4 linked regions of the Homo sapiens genome follow. The protein of the gene in region 2 interacts with the protein of the main gene of each other region in a pairwise test. Each region holds a gene or a part of one and is shown on either strand. Other genes may lie near its edges.

Region 1 (7,988 bases), on a different chromosome or scaffold from region 2:
CTGGCACTTTTGTGTGTTTATTAGACATTTCATTTTTCTCTTTGTTTTAGTACCTATTTAAGACTTTGCCCAGTTTTTTTATTGTAAGTATTTTTCCTACTGGTTTGAAAAAATTTGTATATAATCTACATGTGAATTATTTATTAATTATATGCATTACAAGTATCTTCTCCTATGGCTTTTTATTTTCACTGTTACTGGTATGTTTTGTTGTACAGTAACTCATTTTAATGTAGTATAATTTGTCAATGTTTATTTTCTAGTGCATTTTGTGGCTTGTTTAAGAAATCGTTCTCTACCTCCAGGTCATGAGGATATTCTCCATTTATCTTCTTAAAACTTTATTGATTTACTTTTCACATTTTGGACAATAATCTGCTCTAGATTTGTTTTTGTATACAGTGTGATGCAGGAGACCAATTTCATCTTTTAAATATAAATAATCAATGGGCTCTGCAACATTAATTGAACAAAATTGTCCTTTTCCCATATGTCTGAGATATCTTCTTTTGTTTTATATAAAGAGTCTTATATACATGCAGGATCTGTAACCAAGCTCTCCTTTATTTTCCTCTAGTCTATTTGTCTTGCACCTATATCATATTACTTTAATTATAATTATTTTATGTTTGATATCAGAAAGAATTTTTTTAATGGTGGTGATGGTTTCAAGGGTGTATACTAATCCCCCAAATTGAGATGTATACATTAAATATGTACAGGTTTTCATATGTCAATCGTACATCAATAAAGAGGTTGAAAGAAAGGAAAAAAGAAAGAAAGAGAGGGAAAGAGAGAGAGAGAACAATTCTTCCAACCTTGTTCTTTTCAAAGCCAGTCTATCTGAAAGTTATTTTTCTTCTGCTTACTCTTTTCTCATAAGATGTATCCCTTTGTGATCCCAGTCCAAAATGGGGGGAAATTTGCTATAGTAACCAACTTTTACATGTACAGAAAATGGTCTAAATTCCATCAATCAATCTCTATCACAAGGTACCACCATTGAAAGACAGAAGGTCAAGAATGTAGCTCTGAATATTCAGTGCAAGACCCTGAAGATATTATAGATAGGTTATGCTAGGAAAAATCAAGATACCAAAAGGCTTAGAGCAACTTCAGAAAAGTTGTTTGGAAATAATAATTCAAGAAGAGTTCTACTTTGGCTAATAACTTACCCAAACAACTTGCAATAAAACAGACACTGAGAAGTAAGATGAAAACTACAGCAATAACCGAAGGTATCAGCTGGGGATGCATGCCTCCTTCCACTAGGACCAAAAGAAAAATAGAGATTAACCTCCTCTCAGCTACAAGCTAGGAAAGCTAATTCTACCAAGGAGCAATCTAAAAGTGACAGCAAACCAAATATTTCAGATCTAGAGAAGAGCATAAATATTTTCTCCAAATAAATCAATTTTAGAGCTTATTGATGAATAAATAAATAAGAAAGAAAAATGTAAAATTTCTTGGTAATTTTGAAATGAAAAGAATTTTATAAGTAAGATACAAAACCCAAGAGCCATTAGAATAGATAATTTGAGTACATAAAAATTAAAACTTCTATATAACACAAGCAATGTTAGAGTCAAGGAACGTATGAAAGGAAAGTCTTCTCATAATATTAATATCCGCACTGGATAAAGTATTTCAAAATCAACTAGAAAACTGAGCAAAACTCTGAGCAGGAAATTTGCTGAAATTTTAATTTGCTGAAGTTATAAATAGCCACTAATCAAACAAAAATATGCCCAATCAGGGAACTGTAAACGAAAAGATTGTGGTATAACTTTTCACACATCAGATTTTTTAAGTAAATTAAGTACATGCAGTGTTGGCAAGGCTGAGGGGAAATAAGCACTCTTAGTGAGAAAATAAATGCTGCTGCCTGGACTGGAAAATTAGGAATGCCTTTTAGAAGGATCAATTTAGTGGCATTTATCCATTTTTAAATGCATTTCATTTGCCACAATAATTTCAATTACAGGTGTCTATTCTATAGAAATAATTGAGCTTGTTTATGTTAAAAGATATTCATTGCAGTACTTCTCAAAATAGAAAACACATACTGTAATCTAATATTTACATGTATATTATCAATAGTGGAAATTCTAAATTATGGTCCCTTCACACAATGATATTCTGTATAGTAATTAAATAAGCATGTAATCAGTATATATTGATGCAAAAAATCTCTAAGAAATATTGTTACCTAAAAAGGTAATTCAATAGGATCACACTGTGATTACAGTTTGCCATGGTAGGGTGATGAGATAAAGTAAAACTTTAATTTTAATTTAAACATTTCCACACTTGTTCTATATATCTATCAAAAATATTATTTAATATTATCACAATACAAATCCACTGGTGTCACTTAAGTCAAACATAAAATGGGACAGTTAGAGCCTCTGATACAGCATAAGCCTAAATGCTTTTTCTACATCTTCCTTTTCTCTTTTTTCTTTAAAAGAATCTTCTCATATTACTCTCTTTCTTTTCATCTTATTTCTCTTTTATATATTTTATCTCCCCTCTTGGTCCAATATACATTTTATAAAGAAGTTTCTGTTATCCAACTTATTTGACTCTATGTCCTTCCTCTTCACCAACGTCATTTTTATTTCCTTCCACCTCCTTCTCCCCGTCATCATCAACAATCTTTAAAACTACCATCAATTCATATGTTTTAAATTAGTATAATTCCATCTGCTTCTTTGAAATGGAAAGGAGAGAAAGTACTCACGTTTACTTTGAGGTTTTTCTAGCCCCATTGTCTAATTAGTCTCTTGTTCAATGGTCAGGACGGCAAGAATTTGTTCTATTTTTTTTCCCCCAGAGTATATTTCTGTGGATAGGGGAATATATTCAGAAATACTTGAGATCGAACACCAATGTTACATATTGTAGTGAGATTAGAAAGGTACCAGTATAAGAAAGTTAGCTCAAAAGAAGTCTTTTTCAAAGACAGGGGTTTCCTTTGATACATTCCGGGAGATGAGGCGAAAAAAAAAAAAAAAGGAAATTGAGAAAGCAATACCAAACAACAGTTAGTAGAAACCCACAAGTATGTTGAGATCACTAGATCAGTGTGAAATGTGGAATTTCTCAATTTGTTTTTTTTTTCATTTAGACAAAAAATTTAGCAACGCCCTAAAAGAAATAATTGTTATGCCCAATAAAAATTTAGTAAATGTCCCCTCTTTTTAAATTCTTTTTGTGAATATTATATTTTCAAAGGCAGTTATATTCTTGGGGTGAGTTCTATACTAAAAAGTTCTCTGGACTGAATAAAAAGTTGAGTCTAAGAGAGCAAAAGACAATGTGAACAATGAACAAAAACTTTTAAAGTATACCTTGTGTGTACATGGCATGTGAAGACACAGCAACCTTTGTTTTCGAGTTGAGGAAGAGATGATAGAGCAGTTAATTAAATCCCAAGAACTTTCTAGGTGAGCAAAAAGAGTTGTGTTAAGGCAAAGACAAAGAAAATGTAAGATTCTGTGATAAAGACACCATCAGGGTCCCTGACTTCATTTATAGCACTGTTAGGGAGTGAATGTCTGTATCTCCTCAAAATTCATTGGTGGAAGCACTACCCTCCAACGTAATGGCATTTGGAGGTCAAAAGTTTGGGAGGTAATTAGGTTTAATATGAGGTCATGAGAATGGGGTCCTCATGATGGAATTATAAGAAGAGACCCGGCTAACGAGCTGTTTACTTCCTGCGGGTGCTCAGGCTGTGGCCATCTTCCTTGCTGTTGCTCTTCTCATTGGAGAAGATGGCCCTGGAGACGGTGCTGAAGGACCTGTGGCATCTGTGGGCCTGTTTGCTGTGTTCACTGGTCAAGGTACTATAGACCAGTTTGAATATGATGGTTGTGACTATTGAGATGCATATCTACAGATGAAGGGTAACTGAGAGATGCTATATGGCTGCACCAGCTCCTCCTTTGATGGAATCATTGCGATGATGAGTCCAGAGGACAGCTGGGTCTCCAACTGGCAGCGAGTCAATAACTTTAAGCCAGGTGTATATGCGGTGTCAACCACTGGTCGCTTGCCCTAAGGAATCGTGCGGGAGCTGAAAAGTTGAGGAGTGGCCTACAAATCCAAAGACACAGCTATAAAGACCAGACGCAGGGCTGCCAGCGTCTTTGCTCTCCACCTCCTGCCTCTGCTTATTTTTTGTTCTGGAACTAAATGGGCAGAGCTTCAAATGCTTCCTACCCTCCAATTCAGACTCAGCCAACTGTTGAGAGAACAGCACATCATTTTATCATTTTACCTTATTTGGACTTCAGGTGGGGGTGGGAGGGATTTGGGTTGGTGGATTAACAGATGGAATTGAGGAGAGAGTAGGATGCTGACTTTCCTACCTGTAGCCCAAGGCTGCGCCTTGCTCATGAAGAGGTCTAGGTCAAATGTCAATAAATAGAAACCTCTAGAAAGTTCTTAAGGCCATGACACCTGCCTCGCTTCCCTCTTCCTTTCTCTTAGGCACACAGTAAGAGCTTATTTGCCCTATAAGATACCTTCCCAGAGCAGCAGAGGCCCTTCCACTCCCTCTTGACTGTCTCAGCCTCCAGGATTGCAGCCTTTGTAGTGTGCTTCCTTGCTTCCTATCAGAAGGTGCTGTCCAGAGGCTCAGTAACCCCATCAGCTTGGTGGCCCTGGTGTCTTGTGCTTGTATCCTTCTGCCCTTGAGACCTGGCACAGCAGTATCCCTTGAAGAAATCCTGAGGCTTTGTCGTGCTCCTTGCTCCTTGACCATGTTTAATAATTCTTTTCCCCCTCTGCTCGTCAGTTTTCTTCTCTTTACTGCTCTTCCTATATCTTAGGCCAGTCTCACACACTCACATTTTACATTTTCCTTACTGGAGACCCTTGGGCCTTGGCCGACTGCTGGGTCCTAGTCTGCCTTGTTTGTGCCCCTGTAGGAGGCAGGTCCTTTTCTCCGCCGGCCCAGTAGGGGACCTTGGGTAACATCCCATTTTTCGGCCAAAGTGAGTTATTTGTTTTAGGATAAAAAATTTACTACAAATTCTCATTTACTTAAATTTCCACAGAAATCCTGTTAGTGTCCCCATTTTGATTTCCCTAAGTTCCTTGTTCTCCCTCTGTAAAAAAAGAATGATTACACCTTGCCTGTTTACCTCAGGAATGTTGTGATTGTAGAAACGAAGCTATGTGAAAATTATGCAGCCATAAAAAATGATGAGTTCATGTCCTTTGTAGGGACATGGATGAAGCTGGAAACCATCATTCTCAGCAAACTATCACAAGGACAGAAAACCAAACACCACATGTTCTCACTCATAGGTGGGAATTGAACAGTGAGAACACTTGGACACAGGAAGGGGAACATCACACACCGGGGCCTGTTGTGGGGTGGGGGGAGGGAGGAGAGATAGCACTGGGAGAATGAGGAGTTAATGGGTGCAGCACACCAACATGTCACATGTATACATATGTAACAAACCTGCACGTTGTGCACATGTACCCTAGAACTTAAAGTATAATAAAAAAATTTAAAAAAAAATTTAAAAAAAGAGAGAGAGAGGAAAAAAAAAGAGAGATGAGTTCTCCAGAAGGCAGTCATCTGCAAGGCTAGTAGAAAGCCCTCACTGGTAAAGTGGTTAATTTGACAGGACTCCAAGAACAAATTTACATGACCTGAAGGAGGACACTTTGGGATTCATCACAGAAGCCACATAACCTACAGAGAGCAAAGAAGAGCGACACAGAGCAGCTGCCCATCCAGGATTGCCATGGAGCCAAGGGAGGCTCCCCACAATGGGGAAATGATGAGTGACAGTCCCTAGGGACCCACACTTCTGCCATGCTGGCACTCTGATCTGAGACTTCCAGCTATTAGAACGGTGAGAAATAAATGTCTCTCTTTCATACCACCGGTCTATGGTATTCTGTTATAGTGGCCCAAGCTCACTAAGACAAGTACATAACAGCTTAGAGATCCTTTAAGAAAGATCTCTACAATTTCCAGAATATAGCCCTTTCCCTGAACTCTTCCCTAAGCTACAATATTACTTTAATGATATGTGTGTATATATATTCTGTGATCTTCAGTGAAATATTACTTTACTATGTTAAATTGGGGATGGGAGGAGGTAAAATTATAGATTTGGCAATCCATATATTTTCCGGCACCGCCAGTCACTACAAGAAGTATTCCAATAGCAACAATAGCACTAACCCACAAACTCGGATATGCAACCCTGGAAACTAGATTTTTGGTTAAAGTAATATTTATTTCTATCAAAAGGACCTGGGACTCCTAGAGAATACATAAATCCTGCTTAGAACAGGAAAAAAATAGAATAGGTCTGGTACATTCTGTTGTTCTCAGAAAGTGACTATAATTTCAAAAATATGAGGGAAACCCTACTCTAGAAACTTCTCAGAGCTGAATGAAAAGCTGTGTCCAAGACAGTTAAGATTACAAAAAGACAATATGAACAATAAGCAAAACCTCCATTAACCTTTATTTTTGAGTTGAAGAAGACGTGACAGAGCTGTTAATTAAATCCTAACATCTTCCTAGATAATAGAAATCAGGCTTGTTAAGGCAAAAAAAAGAAAAAAAAAAAGGAGAGAGAGATTCTGTAGTAAAGACACAATCTTTATCACAGGTAAAAGGTAAAGTGGTTAATTTGACAGGACTGCAAGAACAAATTCACATAATTTGAAGGAGGACACTTTGGGATTCATCACAGAAGTAACATAACCCACAGAGAGCAAAGAAGAGTGAGACAGGACAGCTGCCCACCCGGGATTGGCATGGAGCCAAGGGAGGCTCCCCACAACGAGGAAATGATGAGTGAGTGACAGTCCCTAGGGACCCACACTTCTGCCATGAACCCGTACAATCCTGGGCACAGGGGATGCCCCTGACAACCCCCCGAGTCCTGTCCTCCACCAGGCCTGCACTTACATGGAGAGCTGCATGGAGTCGAATTCATGGTGCTGAGGAGCAGACAGACTGCAGGCCTCCGCTAAACCTTGCCAGGCAAAGCCCACTGGCCTGGGCCCCCAGCACAGCCACTCCACCCCCGCCTGAGGACTTGGGCTGGTAGCAGCTCTGCATTTCTATGGGATGGAGCTCGCAGAGGTAACACAACAGGAACACCGTTTTTTTTTTTGCCACTTCCATAGCCCCCGCCCCTACTGCCTTCAGGCTGGGAAGAGGGTGAAGAGCCTAAGGACTATCACAGACCTCCAGCATAGAACAACTGCCTTACAGAAAAGTGGCCACACTGTTTTCCATGCAAGTTCATGTGCCTGCTACTCCTCACTAGGCAGGCCTCCCCACCTGAGCCCCCAGCACAGCTGCCCTGCCTTGACCTAGGCACTTCAGGTGGTGGCAGCTCTGCATTTCTCTGGGGAGGAAATCCCAGAGACAAACCACAGGTTCTCTACATTGCCATGACAGCATACTAGTCTTGCTGCTCTCGGGCTGGGGAAGGAACAAAGAGACTGATTGCTTTCCTGGCACCTCCAGCATGCTACAGCCACCACATGAGGAGGAGCCGAGTCTTTCTTCCCTGTGAATCCCTTGCCCCCTACTCTCTACCAGGCAGGGCCCCCATCTTGGGCCCGCTGCATGGTATCCCCACCCCCAGCTGAGCATTCCCATTAGCTGTGGCTCTGTATCTGTCTGGGGCGGAGTTCCCAGAGACCACTGACAGCCACTTTGCCGCTGTCACTGCAGTGGTACTGCCCTTGCTGCCCTTGGGCTAGGGAACGAACACGGAACACAGACTCTGATTGCTTTGCTGGCACCTCGAGCATACACAGCCACCATACAGAGGGGAGCCAGCCTCTCCTTCCTGTGAGCCCCTGACCCCCTGCTCTTCACTAGGCAGGGCCCTGGGCTTGGGCTCATAGCGTAGCCACCCCATCTCCAGCTGAACATTCCCACTGGCAGCAGCCCTGTGTCTCTCTGGGGTGGAGTTCCCAAAAGCAACTGA
Region 2 (7,025 bases):
TTTTTCCCTGCTAACTATTCAGTAGAAAAAGGATTTTCTGACTGTAATTCTGATGAACTGTTATCTTTGATGACTAGGATACTCGGGAAAATTGGAAAGTGAACAAAATGAACTCATTTATTTTTCACAGATATTAACAAGCAAAGCAGTTTACAAAAAGATCAAAAATTATCCTAAAAACAAATAAATATAAGATCAAATCAATTATCTTTGAACAAAATATAGCTCATTTTCAAAAGTTTTGTTTGGTTTGTGACTAGACTTAAAAATACTAAAATAAGCCAAATAGATGCTAACAATACTAATTTGCACACAAGATTTGAAAAAAGTACTTCAAGTTTTATCTCTTATCCCTAGAGAAAGTAAATAAAAAGTGGCTCTTGCAAAAATAAATGAAAACAAAACCACCAACAAAAACTAATCATATAAGATACTGTTTTTCTTTTTGAATACTTCAATTGGTCCTATATTAGGATAAGGTTTTGATAGCAAGGACTTCCTAGCTTCTTCCTTTATCTTCCATTCTCTAGTCACTTCCGTGTTTTTATCAAACAAGGCTACGTGTAGGCTTTCCTACAAAGTCAGGTTGAGTCAGAGGTAGCGTTAGGATGCAATATACTTGATCATAGTATGTAGTTAGTTCAAATGAACACATCATTATCTAAAAGGATTACAATAATTAAAAATGCAAAAAGAACATGTACTGCCCTCACTGCTTTGCGCTAAGAAAAATTCTGAGAAACTGAGAACAAACATTGGAAGCCAGGAAACAGGCAATTAATTGCCTCATCTTCCATGAGCTCCTTTAATGCACCAGTTCAGGCTGGTTTTCCACGAAGGGTAGCACCCCACTCACATAATAAGCAATGCCAAGAGACAGCAAAGCAATGACGAAGATCAACAGCAATACTCTCCAGAAGCCCAGATCCTCCACAAACTCCTGCCACGTGGTTCGGAAGCTGGAGAGGACTCCTTCACCTTGCTGCAGGTTGGGATTGAGGAGTGAATGGCTTTCCATGGCACTGTGGAAGAAGAAAGAGCAAAAAGGGCATTAAAAAAACACAGCAATTCCAAAAACATAAAACCACAGGGCTACTATTTAGAAAAGACCAAATACACACACACACACACACACACACACACACACACACACACATATATATATATACACACTCTTACATGCTTACGTATCTGAACAATATATACTAAACTGTAAATTGCTAAATGGTAATGAGTATGTTTCTCTTGGTTTAGAATTTAGTAAACTCAAGTTAAAAATTCTATTTAAAAGGTCCTGGCTGGGCGTGGTAGCTCATGCCTGTAATCCCGACACTTTTGCAGGCCAAGGAGGGAGGATCACTTGAGCCCAGGAGTTCGGGACCAGCCTGGGTAACATAGCGAGACACCATCTCTATTTTTTTTTAAGGTGTCCTGAGCAGAAGTCTTGAAATAGGTTATGAGTTGTCTCCATCAAGATATTAAACCACAACACATTCTTGTTATGTTAAATTTAGAAGATTCAAAGTGCAGACTCATAATTTAAGAATGTGTTAATACGAATAAGCAGACATGCAGGTGATGACACCTGAAGAGGACAGTCATCTACAAGTCAAGCAGAGAGGCCTTAGAAGAAACCAACTTTGTGACACCTTGATCTCAGACTTCTAGGCCCTAGAACTGAGAAAGTAAATGTCTGTTGGGGGGAGGGGGGAAGATGAGTAAATCTAAAAAGTCACTTATACAGTGTGTGTGAATCTTGAAGTTAAAAGGGAATTTTTATTAATTTAGTTCAATAATCTGACCAATGAAGGAATTCCTTCTTTAATTGTAATTCTCTAATAATGGAAGGTTACTCCTCAGCCTGTTGTACATGTGGACTCGTCTAGTCATCAGAAATTCTTTTTTTTTTTTGGAGACAGAATCTCACTCTGCCGCCCAGGCTGGAATACAGTGATGCGATCTCAGCTCACTGAAACCTCCACCTCCCCAGCTCAAGCAATCCTCCTGCCTCAGCCCCCCAGGTAGCTGGGACTACAGGTGCATGCCACCATGGCTGGCTAATTTTTGTATTTTTGGTAGAGACAGGGTTTCGCCATGTTGCCCAGGCTGGTCTTGAACTCCTGAGTTTAGGTGATCCACCTGCCTTGACCTCCCAAAGTGCTGGGATTACAGGCATGAGCCACCACAGCTGGCCTAGTCATTAGGAATTCTTAATAGTTTCTTCCTATTGGTGTTAGTTCTATCTTGTACAGTAAGACAGAATATGTTCATTTCTCTTCTGCATAAAGGCTAGTCTAGTTGAAAATAAGGTAGTGCAAATACCATAAAAACACTGATTCTGGTTTTCAGAACTTTATCAATGAGAAATACGACTACCACAAAGAGAAACTGCATCTGACTTTGGTACTTGGAAGCACTAAGGGAAGAGCACTCATGGTTATATCACAACATACAGGCCCAATAAGAGGGTATCATTTAGATTAAAGCCACCATAACCATGATCATAGGAATCAACTATCTACTGGTTATCAAAGTTCATTACTATCCTTCCTAACTCCCATAAAACAGTATCTTAGAGTCTCATTCATTATGAACTATGAATAAACATGCAAAACTGACATTTTTTAACCTACAACTTTATTTTACTTCTTGATACCATCAAACAAAAGTCCTTCAGCCTTTACCAACATTAGAGGTCTTCTCTGATCATGGGAAACTGACTTCCTAATGGGCCAGTCTGCTTAACACCCAAACTTTTTTTTTTTTAATAATTAAAACATGTTTATTCTCTGAATAAGAGATGATGTTTTCAGTGGGAATCTACAACACCACAGTAATTTTGGAACACTTGACAGCAAGTTTAAAAATAAGATTAGAACTTTGAGAAGGCCTAAAAGAGTAAAACCACAAATAGATAACACAGTTCTGCAGAGGCTTAGTTTGACCTATGTAAAATTTATTGATTACGAGTTGACATGCCCTTATACATGTTAGGTATAAAATGAAAATTCCATGAGCATTCTCATTGTTCTTCAGAGCTCATGAAGCTCTGCCAATCGGGATATTCTATAAAGACTTTATCCAATGAAATGCTTTCTACTGTCCAGGGAATATCTGATTCTAACATAATGGGGTGTGTGTATAATCTTTTTTTAAAAACGTGATATCTACACTGTCTTTGGGGGGTGTGTTTGCATGTATCTTTTTTAAAAAATGTGATAGCTATACTGTTTTTGTTATCCCATACCTACAAAGTAAAAAGGAATTAAACTTAGAGTTATATGGAGGAGTGGGGAAATATTTTTCATTAACTTGATTTATAGTCCCTTATAAGGCCTGCAGAAGTTGTGCTGTCTTGGGGGAATCCTAAGAGAAATGGAAAATATTATAGTAAATACATTTAAAACCCTGCTTTATCTTCTGCTCTAGAAAAAGCCATTACACAATTATGCCATAATGCCATGTGCTAGCCAATCTCTTTAAACTTTTTCATCTACATTTATTGAGACATAATTCACATCCCATAATATTTACCTTTTGAAACTGTACAATTCAGTGGCTTTTCATATATTCCCCAAATTGTACAACCATCTCTTCTAATTCCAGTACACTTTCAGCACCTCTATAAGAAACTCTGTACCTATTAGCAGTCACTCCCATTGCCCCTTCTCCCAGCTTCTAGTCTACTTTCTCATCTACTTTCTGTCTCTATGGATTTGCTTATTCTGGACATTTCACATAAACAGAATCATGTAATATGTGGCCTTTTGTGCCTGGCTTCTCCAATGTAGCATGTTTTCAAAATTTATCCATGCTGTAGCATGTATCAGTATAATATAATAATATTAGTAATATTCCATTGGATGAACAGATGATGTTTATTCCTTCATCAGCTGATGGATATCTGGGTGGTATCAATGTTTTGGCTATTATGAATAATGCTGCTATGAACATTCATATATAAGTTTTGTGTGGACATATGTTTCAATTTTCTTTGGTATATTCCTAGAAGTGGCACTGCTGGTCAGATGGTAACTCTACGTGTAGCTTTTTGAAGGACTGCCAGACTTTTCCAAAGAAGCTGCTCTACTTTCCATTCCCATCAGCAGTGTATGAGGGTTCCAATTTCTCCACATCCTCCAGAGCACTTGTTATTATCTATCTTTTTAATTGCAGCTATCCTAGTGGGTGTGAAGTGGCATTTCACTATGGTCCTCATTTGCATTTTCCTAATGACATTACCTTTCAACTTTCTGATTTAAGCTTCAACCACTGAATTTCTACCATGACACTGAGGGGTAGGAGTAAGATAGGAAAACTAGGTAATAAAAGTGTTAATAACTCAATTTTTGAAAAACGAGCTTTATACAGTGTTACAATTAATACAAACTCTCATGCTGCAGTGAAATGGCAGGTATGTGAAGGAAGCAGGAGTACTTCCACTGCTCATCCAATGGAATATTATTTTGTACTTATCACTTCTTAGTAAGTAATCACAACTGAGGCAAACTAATGCTAAAAGTATATTTCTAATAAAAGGGTGCCAAGAAACTGGCTATTAACAAAATAAAGATCCTAAAAATATACCAAACAAGAACACATTCTTGGTTGTTTTTCATGGTAAAGAAGCTTAAAGTACTTAATGTTATTTCATAAAAAGATAAAAATAAATTTCAAGTTATCTTAGAGGAAAAAATCTTTAACAAATAATAGTTAACTCAATATTGTTAAAGTGCTTATGCCATTCTGTCAATCCAAAGTACAGAGGAGAGAAAAACAAGGGCTTGCAAATACATCTCTGACTTCTTGATTATCTATTTGTCAGCTTTCAGTGATCACTCAAGAGGAGTATGCACTGTTCCAGAAGTAAAGCTCTTGGATTTCTTTAGGACTGTATTAAAGTGCTTGAAAGTATCTGAACAAAATAGACCTAAGCTTGAGAGTGGAATTAATGGTCCCCAAAGAGCACATCATCTGGCACACGAGAGGAGGAAAGCAAAAATGGGTACAAAGGAATCAAATGAAGGGTAAGCTATGAAAAACAGAGAGGATTTCATTTAGAACTCACAGAAACAATGATCCCAATGGTCTAAGTGGATTATGTGATTCTAAATCCAAGTCCTAGTCCATCAGCTACTAGGTAAACAGCTGATGTGGGCCCTTGCTTATTCTATTTACAACCTACCGAGAATACTGGGAAGAGGCTATGGAAGCTCAGCATCCTTTTTCCTTCACACGTATAATGTGGAAGGCTGAAACTGCATGGTGGTCAACCAGATAATATGCTACTAGAACTAAGTCTGGCCTATTAACTTTACCTGTTGAGCCCAGTGACATCAGGAGAAAAGATGGTGCGCCACCTTTTTGGAGCTCTCTGAACTGCATTCTCCATTGCTTCTAGATGAGAAATGATGAGCTATTCAAGACCCTGTCAGTTACCACATCTTAGCTTCGATTACTCACAGGAATCCAAATTTCATTAGCTCCAACTCATATGAAAGTCACTTTCACTTTCACATTACTGAACTGTGCATGTGTTAAATACTATCTTGCTTTCCCTCTCTTGTTTTCTTGTTTCTCAGCATTCCACTTCCCTACCCTTGAAACTACCTTTCAGTCTTTTCTAAAATTGCCCAAGTTCTTGGCTTTACTTATACTTCTCTTTTTTTTGAAATTCCATTCTTTTTGTGACCTGTACTTAAAATCATCAAGCTCCGGCTTCCTCCCCTCAGATTCATTTGTTACTATTTCTCCTTTGTACTGTCAATACAGCAGGTGGCTAACAGAACATTATGCGCACATGACATGTAGTACTTTCTGTTAATAGCTTCTCAATTGTAATCTGCAGTCATAAGGTCCTATATAAAGTTCAAGTTGCACTTAAAAGCAAATGAATATTAAAGTTCACAAAGTTAACCATAAATCCACATACTTAAAGTGACTTTCCCCTTAAAAAATCGTATTATCTTGCTGGGTGTGGCTACATGTGCCTATAGTCCCAGCTAGTCAGGAGGCTGAGGCAGGAAGAATGCTTGAGCCCAGGAGTTCAAGGAATGAGTAATACAGTGAGAAAAAAAAAGTTGTATCTCCAGTACCTTTCACTCTCAGCTGTTTGCATGGTCTCCAGTTTCGAGTGGGTTCCTCTGTTAAATCCTTTCACCTCCTGTTCTTCCAAAGATTCCAGCAATCGGATGACATCTTTATTTACTCCTCTGCGCTTTGCCAGAACTAAAGGGGTAGCACCTTGATGATTGCTAAAAAAAAAAAAAAAAAAAAAAGTTTATAAAAATAAAGAAGCCATCATAGCAGTTATACTACATTGTCAGTTCCATTTTTAGTACCCACTTATATAGATCTCAGTGAAGAAAGAATGGGCCCAATTAGGGCCTACCCTAGGGCTGTGGGGAACTAAAGGAGTATTTGGCTCACTACAACTCTTCCACCATGAGCCTTGACCATCTGGCTGCAATCAGATGTTGACTGATGGGATTTTTGCACAGTTCATCACAGAGGCCGTTATCCTGTTAACCAAACACGTCCCCCACCTCCAGACCCCATCCTCACACTGAATGTCTCCTCAACAGCAGATTATGGTAGAAGTAATAGCCGTGTGCCTCTATTTTTTTCTGAATTGTACTATAGAAAGTGTTTATGAAGAACAAATCACCAAGGGGAAAAAAAGGATGGGTCCAGTTTAACTCAAAAGTAAAACCCAGAGCTGAGCCAAACATCCAGTGTAGCTGAATTTTGAATTAACCCTTGTTTTTCTTTTTTTTTTTTTTTTTACTTCCAGGGAAAAGAAAAAAGAGAACATATAGTCAAAAAAGTGGATAAATCTAGTTCTAGATTCATTCTTATTTGATATTTACATTTTATGAGACAAGTACTTTTTTTAAAAAAGTCTAAGAAAAAAATGTCAAATAAGCTGCTTCGGTTCACGCAGCTATTTAGCGCTAATAATAGGTTAGAACCCCAATCACATTAAATCCTGCAGTCAATTCCTACCCCATTTTGTCCTGCAGAAA
Region 3 (5,942 bases), on a different chromosome or scaffold from region 2:
CTTTTCTCTTTTCCCTAAGCATCGGCCGGTCTGAGAAAGAGTACAAAAGAGAGAAATTTTACAGCTGGGTCTCTGGGGGTGACATCACGTCAGCAGGTTCTGTGTTGCTCCCGAGCCGCAAAACCAGCAAGCTTTTATTAGCAATTTTCAAAGGGGAGGGAGTGTACGAATAGGTTGTGGGTCACAGAGATCACATGCTTCAAAGGCAATAAAATATCACAAGGCAAATGGGGGCAGAGCGAGATCAAAGTCCAGGGCAAAATTAGAATTGCTGATGAGGTTTCATGTCCCACTGTGCACGCATTGTCATTGATAAACATCTTAACAGGAAACAGGGTTCAAGAACAGACAACCGATCTGACTAGAATTTCACCAGGCTGGAATTTCCCAATCCTAGCAAGCCTGGGAGAGCTGCAGGAGACCAGGGCGTATTTCATCCCTTATCTACAACTGCATAAGACAGACACTCCCAGAGCGGCCATTTTAGAGACCTCCCCCTGAGAATGCATTCTTTTCCCAGGGCTGTTCCTTGCTGAGAAAAAGAATTCAGCGATATTTCTCCTATTCGCTTTTGCAAGAAGAGAAATATGACTCTGTTCTGCCCGGCCCCGCAGGCAGTCAGACCTTAAGGTTATCTCCCTTGTTCCCTGAAAATTGCTGTTATCCTGTTCTTCTAGGATGCCCAGATTTCATATTGTTCAAACACGTTTTACAAACAATTTGTACAGATAACGCAATCATCACAGGGTCCTGAGGCGACATACATCCTCAGCTTACGAAGACGACGGAATTAAGAGATTCAAGTAAAGACGGGCATAGGAAATTATAAGAGTATTGATTGGGGAAGGAATAAATGTCCATGAAATCTTCACAATTTATGTTCTTCTGCCGTGGCTTCATCCAGTCCCTCCATTTGGGGTCCCTGACTTCCTGCAACACCACAGCACTTCATTTCCAACAAATGAAATGAAAGCTGTGCCAAAATGAATGAAAGAAGTGCCGCCCCACCCCACAGCCCAGACAAGTTTGGCTCAAAGATCTGGTCTGCTTACCCACTGGTCCTGCTCTATTGGAGAGTGCTGTAGACTTTTGAATACATATAGGAAAAAGTGATTCCCATTATTAAAGACTGAACATTTCCAAATAACAAAATCACATGTGGCAAAACTTGTGAGCATTTCTGTTGTTTGGGGCCATTCCTGTAAACCACGTCTGTTTGCCCCTTACTGCTCCATCGCACCACAGCCACCAAACTTCCCAGCCGACTTAAGACACGGGCTGACTGAGCACTGTGGCTCCTGTCTGCAGTCCCAGCACTTTGGGAGGCTGAGGCAGGAGGACTGCTTGAGCCCAGGAGTTTTGAGACTAGCCTGGGCAACACAGGGAGACCCTGTCTCTACCAAAAATGAAATAAAAATTATCCAGACCCTGTCTCTACCAAAAACAAAACAAAAAAAAAAACAAAAATTATCGAGGCTGCAGTGAGCCAAGATCATTCCACTGCACTCCAGTCTGGATGACACAGCAAGACCCTATCTCAAAGAAAAGACACAGGCTGTGTATGGACATGGGGGCCTCTGAAAATAATTAGCCATCCCTCAAAGCTGCTGGAATGGGGAACACTGGGGACAGGGAGCCGCATGATGCCAAGGACAGGCCTCCAAACTGAGGTCACAGGGTGGCCCAAGGCCCTGGAAATCAGGGCAGCTGCCTCTACAGTGGGTGTAATTCCAGGCAGTAGCTGCCAAGCTGAGTGGGCCCCTGCAAGAAGAGAAGTGCCCGTCTTCTGGTCAACCTGGAGATTTGCATCTCTCCATCGTGCCCAGTCTCTGGCAGGAAGCCCCACTCCCCAGCCGACACTGCACCATGCTCATGGAGGAAGAAGCTGTGCAGCACAGCCCAACAGCGTTTTCCCCTTTCGGTTTTCTAGAGTAGTCTTGCAGAACTATTTTTTGGTTTTTTTTTTTTTGAGAGAGTCTCACTCTGTTGCCCAGGCTGGAGTGCAGTGGCACCACCTCAGCTCACTGCAACCACCGCCTCCTGGATTCAAGCGATTCTCCTGCCTCAGCTCCAGAGTAGCTGAGATTACAGGTGTGCACCAAAACACCTGGCTAATTTGTTTTTATTTTCAGTGGAGACAAGGTTTCACCATGTTGGTCAGGCTGGCCTCAAACTCTTTGACCTCAGGTGATCTGCATGCCTTGGCCTCCCAAAGTGCTGGGATTACAGGCATGAGCCACTGCCCCTGGCCATAGTCTTGCAGAACTACTTTGTCACTCCACAGAGATCAGTAGTTTAAGGCACAGCGAAGGTGCCCAGCTGAACTTTGATTATTTCCTGTGCAGCATAAAGTTCTGCTCCTCGGGAGTAAATCTGCAAATCAGAGCCTTCCTCAGGAAGATAGCTCTACAGATGACCCAGGGGAACAAGTACAAGCCGTGCGTTCCAGCACCCAGGATTTCTTGTTTCATGTCATTTTAAAGAACACATGGTTTCGAGTATACTATGGAGTCCTAGGTTTATTCCCAGCCTTGGCCTCAGTTGTCAAGCTAGCTGTTCCTTTTTACTTGGGGGATTCAGCCCCTTCCCATTTTACCCACCAACTCTTAATCATCTCCCCTGCTCTACTCAACCATCTTTTTCTGGACACTCTTCCTGCTTCCTGCATAACCTAGTTTAGAGCAGTCCCCTTATGCTAGTCTCTAAAGCTTCCTGTTCTTATCACAATTTTAATCAAAGTATACTCTCTCTCTTTTTTTTTTTCTTCCTGAGATGGAGTCTCACTCTGTTGCCCAGGCTAGAGTGCAGTGGTGCGATCTCAGCTCACTGCAACCTCTGCCTCCCAGGTCCAAGTGATTCTCCTGCCTCAGCTTCCCAACTAGCTGGGCCTACAGGCCTATGCCACCATGCCGGGCTAATTTTTGTTTAGTAGACATGGGGTTTCACCATGTTGGCCAGGCTATTCTCCAGCTCCTGACCTCAGGTGACCCACCTGCCTTGGCCTCCCAAAGTGCTGGGACTACAGGTGTGAGCCACCACACCCAGCCCAAAGTATACTCTTAACCCAGGGTGGGCACACACTGCTACGATCAATGATGGTGTGAGGTAATAGTGAGTGGTGGGGACTGTGGAGGGAATATGGCCACCGAAAGGACGGTTTCACTTGGCTGCAGCAGAGAGACTGGTTCCATGAGGGTGTGCACTCATTGTTTCTGGACCTCCCATATTTTCAAAGGAAGCCAGAATGTGGAGTTTTAAAGTGAAATGCCCCCCAATATTTAAGTACTGACAATTTTTAAAAACAATGTAGGCCAAACAAAACACATAGGTGGGCCGGGCGCAGTGGCTCATGCCCGTAATCCCAACACTTTAGGAGGCCGAGGCAGGTGGATCACCTAAGGTCGGAAGTTAGAGACCAGCCTGACCAACATGGAGATACCCTGTCTCTACTAAAAATACAAAATTAGCCAAGCGTGATGGTGGATGCCTGTAATCGCAGCTACTCAGGAGGCTGAGGCAGGAGAATGGCTTGAACTGGGAGGCGGAGGTTGCGGTGAGCTAAGATCATTGCACTCCAGTCTGGGCAACAAGAGCAAAATTCCGTCCCCAAAAAAAAACAAAAACAAATTTTTTGTTTGTTTAGTTTGAGCCACATAGGTGGCTCCAAATTTGTAGGTAGCCTGTGGTTTAATATCTTTCTCTCCCGTTTAACTCAGCTCCACGGGGCACATGGCATCTCCCTCTGCTCATCACAATGTCTGGATCAAACAAATGAAAAACAAAAACATGATGGCCTCTCCCAGCAAAGCTCCAGGGTTGGAAAGAGTCCCCTGGCAGGGAATTGGCACCCCGTCGTGCCCATCCTCTCTCTCTGACTGCCTGCTGGAAATGCCCCCATCTCCCTTTGAGTCCTCCTCCCGGGCAACCCCTGTGACCTGTAACCTCTGTCCTGAAATCATCACAATGGCCAGAGTGGCCTCAGCTCAGGGCCTCTGTGACATCACCAAGGGCCTGGCACCAGGTGCCCAGTCTCCCAGTTGCGAGGGCAAGCAAACCCGTCATGAGCAACTCCCTTCCCCATCTCTGCTCACCATGTGGACGCTGAAATCGTCCCTGGTCCTGCTTCTGTGCCTCACCTGCAGCTATGCCTTTATGTTCTCTTCTCTGAGACAGAAAACTAGCGAACCCCAGGGGAAGGTGCAATACGGAGAGCACTTTCGGATTCGGCAGAATCTACCAGAGCACACCCAAGGCTGGCTTGGGAGCAAATGGCTCTGGCTTCTTTTTGTTGTTGTGCCGTTTGTGATACTGCAGTGTCAAAGAGACAGTGAGAAGAATAAGGTAAGGATGGCTCCATTTTTTTTACACCATATTGATTCAATCTCAGGAGTCTCAGGGAAACGGATGTTCTAGTGAGTCTAGACGGCACCGTTGGGTATAATGAACCGACCTCATGGTCCTGGGCAAAGCTGGCAAATTCACTTCCTGATGTATCCTTAGTGAAGACAATTGTCCCCAGATCCACAGATACTGGGACAAAGAGTGGAAAGTGACCTCTGCTTACTGGCTCACAGATTTTCTGGTTAGATGGATTTTTTCAAATGTAGGATAGATTCAAGAACTTATGGTGTGTTTCAGAAAGTCAAAATTATTCACAGGGCCAGATTCACTAGCCCCTGTTTTTTAAATTCTTGCTAGTGTTTGACTTACTACAAAATCCTGAGCTAAATGGAAATGATATCATTATCCCAACAAAATATGAGACTTGTGCTGAAGAGATAAAGATGTAAGGTAGTTTGAGCTGGTCCTCAAAGTGACCACAAACAACTCTTTCAGGTAGAAAAGGAAGGGGAGAGAAAGTGCGTTCTCCCCTAGAAAGACCCAGCACTTCATAATCCTGTGCCCAAACTGATGAGAGCAGGGATCGGCAAACCCTTCCCGTAAAGGGCCAGGGAGGGTGCGAATATCTTCAGCTTTGTGGGCAGTATGGTCTTCTTGCAACTACTCAAGTCTGCTGTTGTAACACGAACTGTGTCAAAACCAACAAAGTTCACAATATTACTGACCTTGAGTATCTTTCCTGACAGGAGCAGAGTCCTCCTGGCCTTCGAGGCGGCCAACTTCACTCTCCATTAAAGAAAAAAAGAAATGCTTCCCCCAACAAAGACTGTGCATTCAATACCTTAATGGAACTCGAGGTGGAGCTTATGAAATTTGTGTCCAAAGTGCGGAATCTTAAACGTGCCATGGCAACAGGTAGTGGCAGTAACCTCAGGCTTCGAAAGTCAGAGATGCCTGCAGATCCATACCATGTCACGATCTGTGAAATATGGGGAGAAGAAAGCTCTAGCTGAATGGATTTGTGTGTCAGGAGAGAAAAAAGTTGAGTGTTGACAAACTGTATGCAAACTAATAAAACTATTCTGAAGAAAAGAACTTCCATGTTTGAGAGCTTGCTTCTTTTCTTTTTTTCACTAGAAGAAAAAGTGAATGGGAGACCAGTAGCCATAGCAGTGATGGTTTTGTTTTTGCCTCTCTCACGTCATCTAGAGCTGTGGGTGGTGAGAAGAACACCGAAAGCTACATAATAGTACGTGATGAGCTCGTGCTTCTGTTCAATGGCCGCGGGTGGACGATGGAGCTAGGGAAATCTGGGATAAGATGCTGACGTCACTTCCATACAAACTCTTGCTCTCTATAGCATCTATTTGTGCAAGATGCAGAACTGCTTTTTATCTTTGATTTATTACAAAAGACAGCATTAATGATAGTTTTAAAATGGTAAAATGATTCAATTAGGAGGGGTGTATTCTAGAGTTATCTGATTCTCTCACCACAAGAGTCCTTTCACTCATTCCCTGTCAAAGGTTCCGTGTATATTGACTTTTCCTTCTACCACACTAGCAGTTACATTTGTCAATAATTGGATTTAAAAAAAAAAA
Region 4 (7,838 bases), on a different chromosome or scaffold from region 2:
GTAGACAGTGGCTGCATTCCAGACCCCTGAGCCTGGATGGAAGGAGGGTGCACCAGGATCAGTCTCTGATCCTTCCCAGGATCTACCCAATTACAGAATGGAATTCGGACAGTTTCTAGAGAGTCTTCAGCCACCCCCCATCCTCACCCCACAATGCCTGCCCTCAGCTTGAGGTAGATGAGGAGGGGGGTCAGAGAGGATACCACCCCCCAAAACCTGTAAGCCAGTCCAGAGCACTAAAGTCTCTGAGCACAAAAAGGGGGAAGCACAGACAGATCGTGTTTCTTCCAGCACCCCCAACTCTGCAGGAGGGCTCCTTTCCAGCTGTGGAGCTGCATGCTATCTCTGGTTAGAGACCCGAGAGAGCAATTAGGTCACTCCCATGAGCCCCTATGATGGGCTACCCCAGGCGGATTTCAACTCTCCTGGCTCAAGACAGAACATTTCCAGCCTCCACCCTTACCAGGGTAACTGAGCACTTCACAACCACTGAGCACTTCACAACCACTGAGCACTTCACAACGTTCCCCCCTGGGCTCAAGCAGCCCAGAGCTCCCAGAGCATTTTGAGCCCCTGCTGTTAGGAGAGTGTTGTACCCCGTTTGGCTTCTGGGTAGGAAAGAAATTCTTGCCAATCCCTTTCCTTGTACCCAGGGAGAGCCCTCCACCCCAACCCTGGTTTAGCCATCCCACCAACCAGTAATAGGACTCTACCTTAATCGAGGAGAAGAAAACTAAAGCTGCCTTCTCCTACTCCAGGGCTGAGAGATCAAACGTCCCTGGGACCCAAGAGGCCAAGGTAGGCAGGAGCCTGGGAAGTTACCCGGGGCAGGGCGGGGCTGGGGGGGAGGCGGCGTGGGGCAGCAAGAGTGGACAGGAAGAAATTTGAGATACAGGAATCAGTGATCACGGATGGAGCAGGTCAAAGCTCCCCAGTTTCCTGCTAAGTGGGGTTGTTCGCACATTGCTGGGACCTCCAGAAAATTGAGAGGAAGGGCAATTTTGACCCTTGGTTCCAACCTGAGTCCTGGATGCCAAAAGAGAAGGTCCAGAGGTCACTACAACAGCCCCAGCGACTTCCCACTAAAAGCCCAGAAACCACTGAGCCACCGCCCTGAAAGGTGTGCGTGTTGTTTGGAGGGGTTGTGTGTGTGGTGGTGGTGGGGTAGTTGTGCAGAGGAAGGAGAAGAAAGAAAAGAAAGGATGTCCTTTATATAGCTGCCCACTCCCCGCCCCAACCCCTTGGGGAAAACTAAGCACAGCTTCCCAATCTGGGGGACAGACTCGGGGGCCAAGGGGACCTGCCTGGGCAGGAATCGCTCCTTCTCCACCCACCTCCCTCAACAGCTCGGCCGCCACTCTCCGCCCTGGCGGGCCCTTGAAGCTCTGTTACCGGCTCCATTGGACCCCTGACGGGCACTGGTTCGAACCCCCACTACCCAACGACCACTCTCCCACTCCGCCCCTCTCCACCCGCTGCCTTTGTGAGCCTGGGAGCAGCGCCCGCCTTTCTACCGCTCCGGCAGGGAGAAAGGAGGGGCGGGGGGCAAAAAGAGACAGCAAAGCAAAAAGCCAGGGAGGAAAACAGGGAAGAAAGAGAAATGAAAATGGGAGAAGCCCGAGTGGGGATGTTGGCGCTGCCACCCACCCCAAGCGCCGGGTCCCGCTCTGTGTTCCCTCCACAGCTACGCAAACGAGGAACCCGTGTTCTGGCCTCGTCCCTCGCCCGAGTCAAGCTCGCTCCTGGAGCGGCTCTCGGCGAAAATCACCACGTTCCCAGGGGCCCCGGAGGGAGCTGCGTTCTCGCCTCCACTCAGTTCTCCGGTGCGCTCTCGGGCGCCCGGACTCCCCAGCTCCGCCTGTGCGACCACCTCGACTTCATCCAAGACGTGCAGAGGCAGGGGGTGGGAAGCCCGGGGGGTCACAACCCAGCCAAGTGCCCCTACCCCACCCCGCCGCACCCTGCTCCATCCGCCCGCCCGCAGGAAAACACTCGAAAAAGCCGGAGACAAAATGAGGCGCCGCTCCTCCTCCGAAGACCTCCCCACATGCACTCCGGGGCGTGCGGCCTCACCCTGAAGGAGTGCCTCCCACCCCAGCGTCCAGAGGAGATAAGTTACTCACTTGGGGTTGAGGGAGCTCCAGGATACGGGCTCCAGGTTCTTGGCCAGCGGTGTGGCGAGCCGGCACAGCGCCCACACGACCATCGCCACAAGCCACTTGCCGAGCCAACGCTGCCCAGGCCGAGCCATCTTCCCGGGGGCAGACTGCACTTCGGGATCCCTTGGCGCCTCCTCACCAAAGCTCGCCTCGCCTTCCTCTGCCGCGCTGCGCTCGGAGCCGCTCAGGCGCCCATCCTCCGCAGCCGCCGGCCTTGAAGTGCTCCCCTCCCGCCGGCTTCGGTGTCGCTCTTCTCCGCCCGGCCGGCCAGGAGGACTCACTGGGCAGCCGCCCCCAACCCGGGCATGGGCTTCGGCCCCCGAGGGCTCGTTCTCCTGGGCTCTCCGCTGCCGCACGAGGCGCGACGGGGGCTCTGCGCCCCCGGGTGATCCCGCCCGATTCCGCTCGACTTCCCGAGACGCTTCGGGGCTGCGCGCCCTCTCCCCGACGGGGTCTTCCCGCAGAGGTCTCGGTGACCGCCCCGACGCCTCGACCGTCCCGGGATCGCTGTCCCTTGGAAGAAGTGGGGGTTTCCCCACAGCACAAGCTCGGTCCCCGGGCTCCCGACTGGGCCGCCCTGGCACGGGCTCCGTTCCTCCGGGCCACACTGGGACTCCGGGCTACGCGCCCCCGGACAGCTTCTACTTCAGCGCGGGCCCTGCTCAGTGTACTTAGAAGAGCGGGGAGATGCTGCCGAGCGAGCCAGTCCCATTAGTTTGCGCCCCCGAAGCCTCGGCCGGGTAGCCCGGCAGCCTCGCGTCGCCGAGTCCTGGCTCCCGGGCGATCGAGCCCGAGGGTCTGCGGCCAGTGCGAGCCTCACAAACCTCCCACTGCTGTCCAGCTCGCATAGACTCCCTCCGCTGCCGCTGTGCTGTCTACTCCCTTGCTCAGGCGAACGCAAGGCCAACCCTGCTCTCTTAGCCAATAGCAAGCTCAGTGGCGGGGTCCTTGCCCCATACCACGCCCCCAGAGCAGGAAGGGGGCGGGGTTTCAGGGAGCTCTTAAGGACGCCGCGCGCCCGATGGCACCAATCTGAGTGTGCGGCTCGTGCGGTTAGGGTTGGGTCCCTCTCAGTCCTGTTCCCAGAGAGCTCAACCCGTGGGAAGTTGGCACTCTCAAGAGCTGCCGGCCTGCTCTCCTCTCCACGCGTCTGGTCAACACCCCAGCCCACTGACCCTGTCCCAAGTACCCCAGGAAAGTATTTCCATTTTCTTTTTACACACAGGACCCCTGAAGTCCTGCTCTGTGCCCACCTCCGTGTCAAGGACAGCCTGTCTGCTCCTCGTCCAGTCCCACGTAAGGCTTTAGTGGGCTTTCCTCCTCTCGCCCTCAAAATGCACTGTCTGCTTGCACTTGGACCCGGAGTCAGGAACATAAAAGTGAGAACAGTGGGAGGGGGAAACTGGTGAGGGTCCAGTACTTGATTGGGGTTAGAGGTGGGGCGGGGAGCAGGGTGGGGTGTGGTGGGGAGAGAAGGCGTGTTCATCGCCCCTGGGGACCAGGCCTTCGGAATCTCAGCTTTCTGGGGGAGCCTTGTGGGACCTCTGGAGCCAAGATTTAGTCTTGTCCTGTCCGAAGGCGCGGGCAAGGTCCCGGGATAGGCAAGCGGGGATGAGAGGGCACGTCGATAAAGAAAGACACCTCGAGGGCAAAGAGGAAAAAGCACAGGGCATGAGACTTTTGAAAAAGCAAAAGCGGGCATCCTGGACCGGAGAAGCCGGACTCCAGCCTGTCCCGGCCTCGCCATCTGGGTCTTTGTCTCCCAGCCCTGGCCCATTCTTCCCGCCCCGCCTTGCCTCTTTGCTTATAACTTGGCTCGATCCCATAGCTCAGACCTTCCAGGTCCGACCCACTCTCGCTGGTCGGACCCCAGAGGACGTACCCACGTGCTAATGTCTCCCCCTGCTGGACTTCCATAGCACTGCGGGCGCCTGGGATAAACCCGGAGCTTGCCATAGCACAAGACCTGGGACAGGCGTAGCCTTGGCAAAAACCGTCACCCTGTATGGGGAGGAAGGGAAAGAACTAGAAGGATATCTGAGTTTGGGGTAGGCTTAGGGACTGCCAAGAATACAAGGTCTCCCCACTTTTTCTTTATGGAGATAATTAGATGAGCAACATTCCCAAAGTGCTCCACCATTCACACAGTTTCATGTCCATCATCTCGCTTAATAGGTGACTGAGCTACTGCGTTTCTCAGTGGATCCTCTGATGATCTTTGTGGCTGTAGAGGTGGGAATAGCCCAGATTTTGTCTTTTTATTTTCTCCCAAATAGAGGAGAAAATAGGGAAAATCTGGGCCCTTCCCACTTCCAGGGGCAGCCCTTGAGGGTGAAGTGGCTCTGGGTAGGTAGGGAAAGAAGGAGCTGTTTGGGGTCTCTGAGCTCTCAGCTGGACCCTGCATTGGGGTGTAAGGAAGGAGAGATGAGATGAATAGGGTGTAGGGACACACCAGTAGTCTAGCTGGGAGACTGGGATCCCTGGAGTGCATGCTAGGACATCAAAACCTGAATACAGAAAGCAGCCTGCTGCTTACTGAGTGCCTACTATTGTCAAGAACCAAGTTAGATGCTTTTCCTTTCATAACCTTTTGAAATGAGTTTCAGTATCCCCATTTTACCTACAGGGGAAAGTAAGGCTCAGAGAGAAGTGACTCATCTGAGATCACCAAGCTGATCAGTGGTGAAAGCAGGATTTGACTCCTGGGACATCTGTCTCCAAAGCCTGTGGCCATTCCCCTGTACCATACTGGCTCAAATTCCCAGCCAATCCTTGCTTCTTTGCTTCTTTGGTTCATTCCTGGTTAAGGCTGGGTCGTGCATGGACAGCAGCAGCCTGGGGCTGGCCAGGACTCTTCCCTCACTGTCCTTCAAGAGGTTGCCAGGCCTGGAAAGTTCATCTATATTCCTGGCCATAGCCCAGAGTTCTTCTCATCTAAGACCACCACTGCCAACCCTAGAGCCAGCCTTGATTCTTCCTCCCCACAGCCAGCATGCCCGGTGCCCCACAGGAGGAGAGCCCAAGGCCAGGTGGGGGATGGGGAGATGAGGCTATGCGGCCAGTCTTGGGAAACATGGGAAGACAAGCAGTTCCTGAGTGTGCCAGCACCTAATCCCGGTGGGCAGGGTGGCAGAGGAAATGAGAAGAAGACTCTTTATGTCCAGACCTGCTCCACATGCTACTTATCCCTGCTCACAGCACAGCCTTTCTGCCTCAACCTGCCCACACCAGCTACAGGGGCCTCAGGAGCAGAGCTGAGCCTACTCCCTGCCATGGCTAGGCCAGTGATTCCAGGTTCCCACCTCCTGACCCACCCTGGCGGGGCCTCAGATGTAATGATTCAGGCCCCCGAGGTAGGGAAAAATTACTCCCAAGGGAGCCTGAGAGGAAGTCAGGATCTGTGAGCAATGGGGGCCCTCTCATCCAAGCCCTCCCTATACCATTGGCAGTCACTCCCCACCCATTTCTCCCAGGTTACTGTGTCATTACAAACACATCCACGCACGTGCTCACACACACACACACACACACAACTATCAGGTTTCAAGTCCACCAGCATTTCCTGAGCAGTGCCTCTGTGCTGACCTCTGAGCGGGGCCATCCCTGTTGACACAAAGAGCAGCTCCAACAAGCCCTGCCCACAAGGAACACCAAACACTGATACCTGTATGTGGGGGATCCTGGACCCAGAGATGCAGGAGAACATCTGGCAGCTGCAGGAAGCCTCGGGCATCGTGCAGCCCTGGGAGAGCAGAGCTGCTCCTTCTGAGCTCAGCTTCCCACACCCATGAGCAGCAGGGAGGTATAAACTTCAGAGCCACAGAGTTCCCTGCTTATGAACTGTGTCTCCTTGGGCAAGTCAGTTCACCTCTGTGTGCCTCAGTTACTTGTCTGTAACCTAGAGGTCGTCCCTCATTCACAGAGCCGTGGTGACGGGTGAATGAGACAATGCATGTGAAGGGCTTAGTATCATGCCTGGCCCACTGTGGTACTTACTAAATGGAAACTCTTACTCTTCTGCAGAGCCTCCCACAGAGACACTCTCATCCCCAGTCACACACGTTCTCACCTGTTCACACATGCTTTGTGTGGCACATGCACATTTTTTATCTCCTCTCATATTCTCACACACTTGTACATATATGCACACAAACTCTCATTCTTTCTCACCTATCCATTTATTCAGCAGAAGGTGGCAGGACCGGGTACTGTCCTCGTGGAATTTAAAATCTAGCCCCCAGAGTTTCTCATGTTCACTATCATCTACACATGTGTATGAACATGCACACACCTTTCTATTTCTGTGGCCCTTGTCCTTGACTTCTCCCTGCCTGCCTTGCACTCTGAGACACAGAGAGGTGAAATAACTCACCTAAGGCCACCCAGCCAGGAAGTGGAAAAGTCAGGATGTAAACTAGGCCACACTGATATACCAAGGCTGTGGAAAGGAGTGTGTGCCAAGGTGTGGGCCTGGGAAAGCCAGCAGGCCCAGCCAGAGCTAACAGTTAGAAAAGCAGACTGAAGAGTCAGGGAGCAAGGATCCTAACTTGAGGTCCAAGGCATTGCCAACTGGGACAACCCAGTGGGGCTAGCAACCCTCTCTCTTGTCTGCAGTCATCTCTAGCCTGCCCCATGCCTCCTATTTTCCTCCTAGAAGACCTACTACCTGTACCTGCACATCTCACATACACTGGCACCTATTCCCTACAAGGAGAGGGAGAGCTACCATTTATTAAACACCTACTGTATGCCAGGCAGTGTGGCTGGGTGCTTTCACCTGGTGCTCTATTATGTTTGTTTAATCTTCACAACATCCCTGAGGTTGATATTGATAGACCTGTTTTAGAGATGAGAAAACTAAGGCTCCAGGCTCAATCTGGCTGCATCCTCTGCTCCACCAACCTCAGTCTGCAAAGTGCTCTTTTGCTCAGCCAGCTTATTCCCACCACCCCCTTCTCTGCTGTCCTTCCCTCTGCCCACACTTGCCTCCTAGCTGAGACCAGCTGGGGTCTATGCTGATCTTGGGTTGCCCTTTCTCTTCAATGAATACTTTGCTTTTTTCCAATTCACCCTATCTGTAGGTCAGTCTCTGGGCAAGCCTGGGGTGGGACCTGAGACTTCCCACTCTTCCTCCTTTCCCCACGTGGCTGCATCATACCCCAGGGCTAGGTGAGATCTAGCCTCAGGCGGGTAAGATCTGGAAGTCTGTTTTCACTGCACCCACGAGAGTTCCCGGTGGCTGGGGAAGAAGGGGGTCGTCCCAAAGGCCAAAGGTTCAGCCAGACTCTCTCCCCAGCCCTTCCCTGTCCCTGCCCCAGCTGCATGCCTGGTTTATGGGTATTTGCACTGAGATCATCTTGATTTGCCAGATGCTAGCCTGTGTCAGGTTGATGGCAGAATGGCACTAGGGATGGGAGGAGCCCCTCTCTCCCTCAGATGGGTCTGGTCCCCCTCCCTCCTTCTCTCTTTATCTCCTCCTCATACCCCTTACCCCTACCCTGGACTCCTAGACATCTGTCCCAAAGCCTCAAGCTCCATGCAGGCAAATGACCTGCCCCCCTGTCCCTGTAAGAGCCTGAAATAGGGCATCTGAGAGCCAGAGCATGGCTTGGTGTGCATAACAGGTGGACAAGCCTCTGAAGGGCAGCTGGGACCCTGGGCCCTCAGAGGCCTCATCTT

Evidence for each region.
Region 1: the proteins of ANKRD46 (region 2) and CLEC4D interact in binary tests that used the Homo sapiens proteins (3 or more experiments, as listed by UniProt).
Region 3: the proteins of ANKRD46 (region 2) and FAM209A interact in binary tests that used the Homo sapiens proteins (3 or more experiments, as listed by UniProt).
Region 4: the proteins of ANKRD46 (region 2) and EFNB1 interact in binary tests that used the Homo sapiens proteins (3 or more experiments, as listed by UniProt).

Annotation. Positions count from the first base shown.
Region 1 is NC_000012.12:8,508,516-8,516,503, reverse strand, and holds the start of CLEC4D (C-type lectin domain family 4 member D), read right to left. Parts: upstream 3,002-7,988; 5' UTR 2,772-3,001; coding exon 2,744-2,771; intron 1,269-2,743; coding exon 1,176-1,268; intron 1-1,175.
Region 2 is NC_000008.11:100,521,750-100,528,774, forward strand, and holds part of ANKRD46 (ankyrin repeat domain-containing protein 46), read right to left. Parts: intron 6,255-7,025; coding exon 6,096-6,254; intron 1,023-6,095; coding exon 806-1,022; 3' UTR 1-805.
Region 3 is NC_000020.11:56,520,717-56,526,658, forward strand, and holds FAM209A (protein FAM209A precursor), read left to right. Parts: upstream 1-4,027; 5' UTR 4,028-4,092; coding exon 4,093-4,341; intron 4,342-5,066; exon of another isoform or gene 5,067-5,087; coding exon 5,088-5,354; 3' UTR 5,355-5,436; downstream 5,437-5,942. UniProt on the Homo sapiens protein: May play a role in sperm acrosome biogenesis.
Region 4 is NC_000023.11:68,824,190-68,832,027, reverse strand, and holds the start of EFNB1 (ephrin-B1 precursor), read right to left. Parts: upstream 3,008-7,838; 5' UTR 2,252-3,007; coding exon 2,124-2,251; intron 1-2,123. UniProt on the Homo sapiens protein: Cell surface transmembrane ligand for Eph receptors, a family of receptor tyrosine kinases which are crucial for migration, repulsion and adhesion during neuronal, vascular and epithelial development.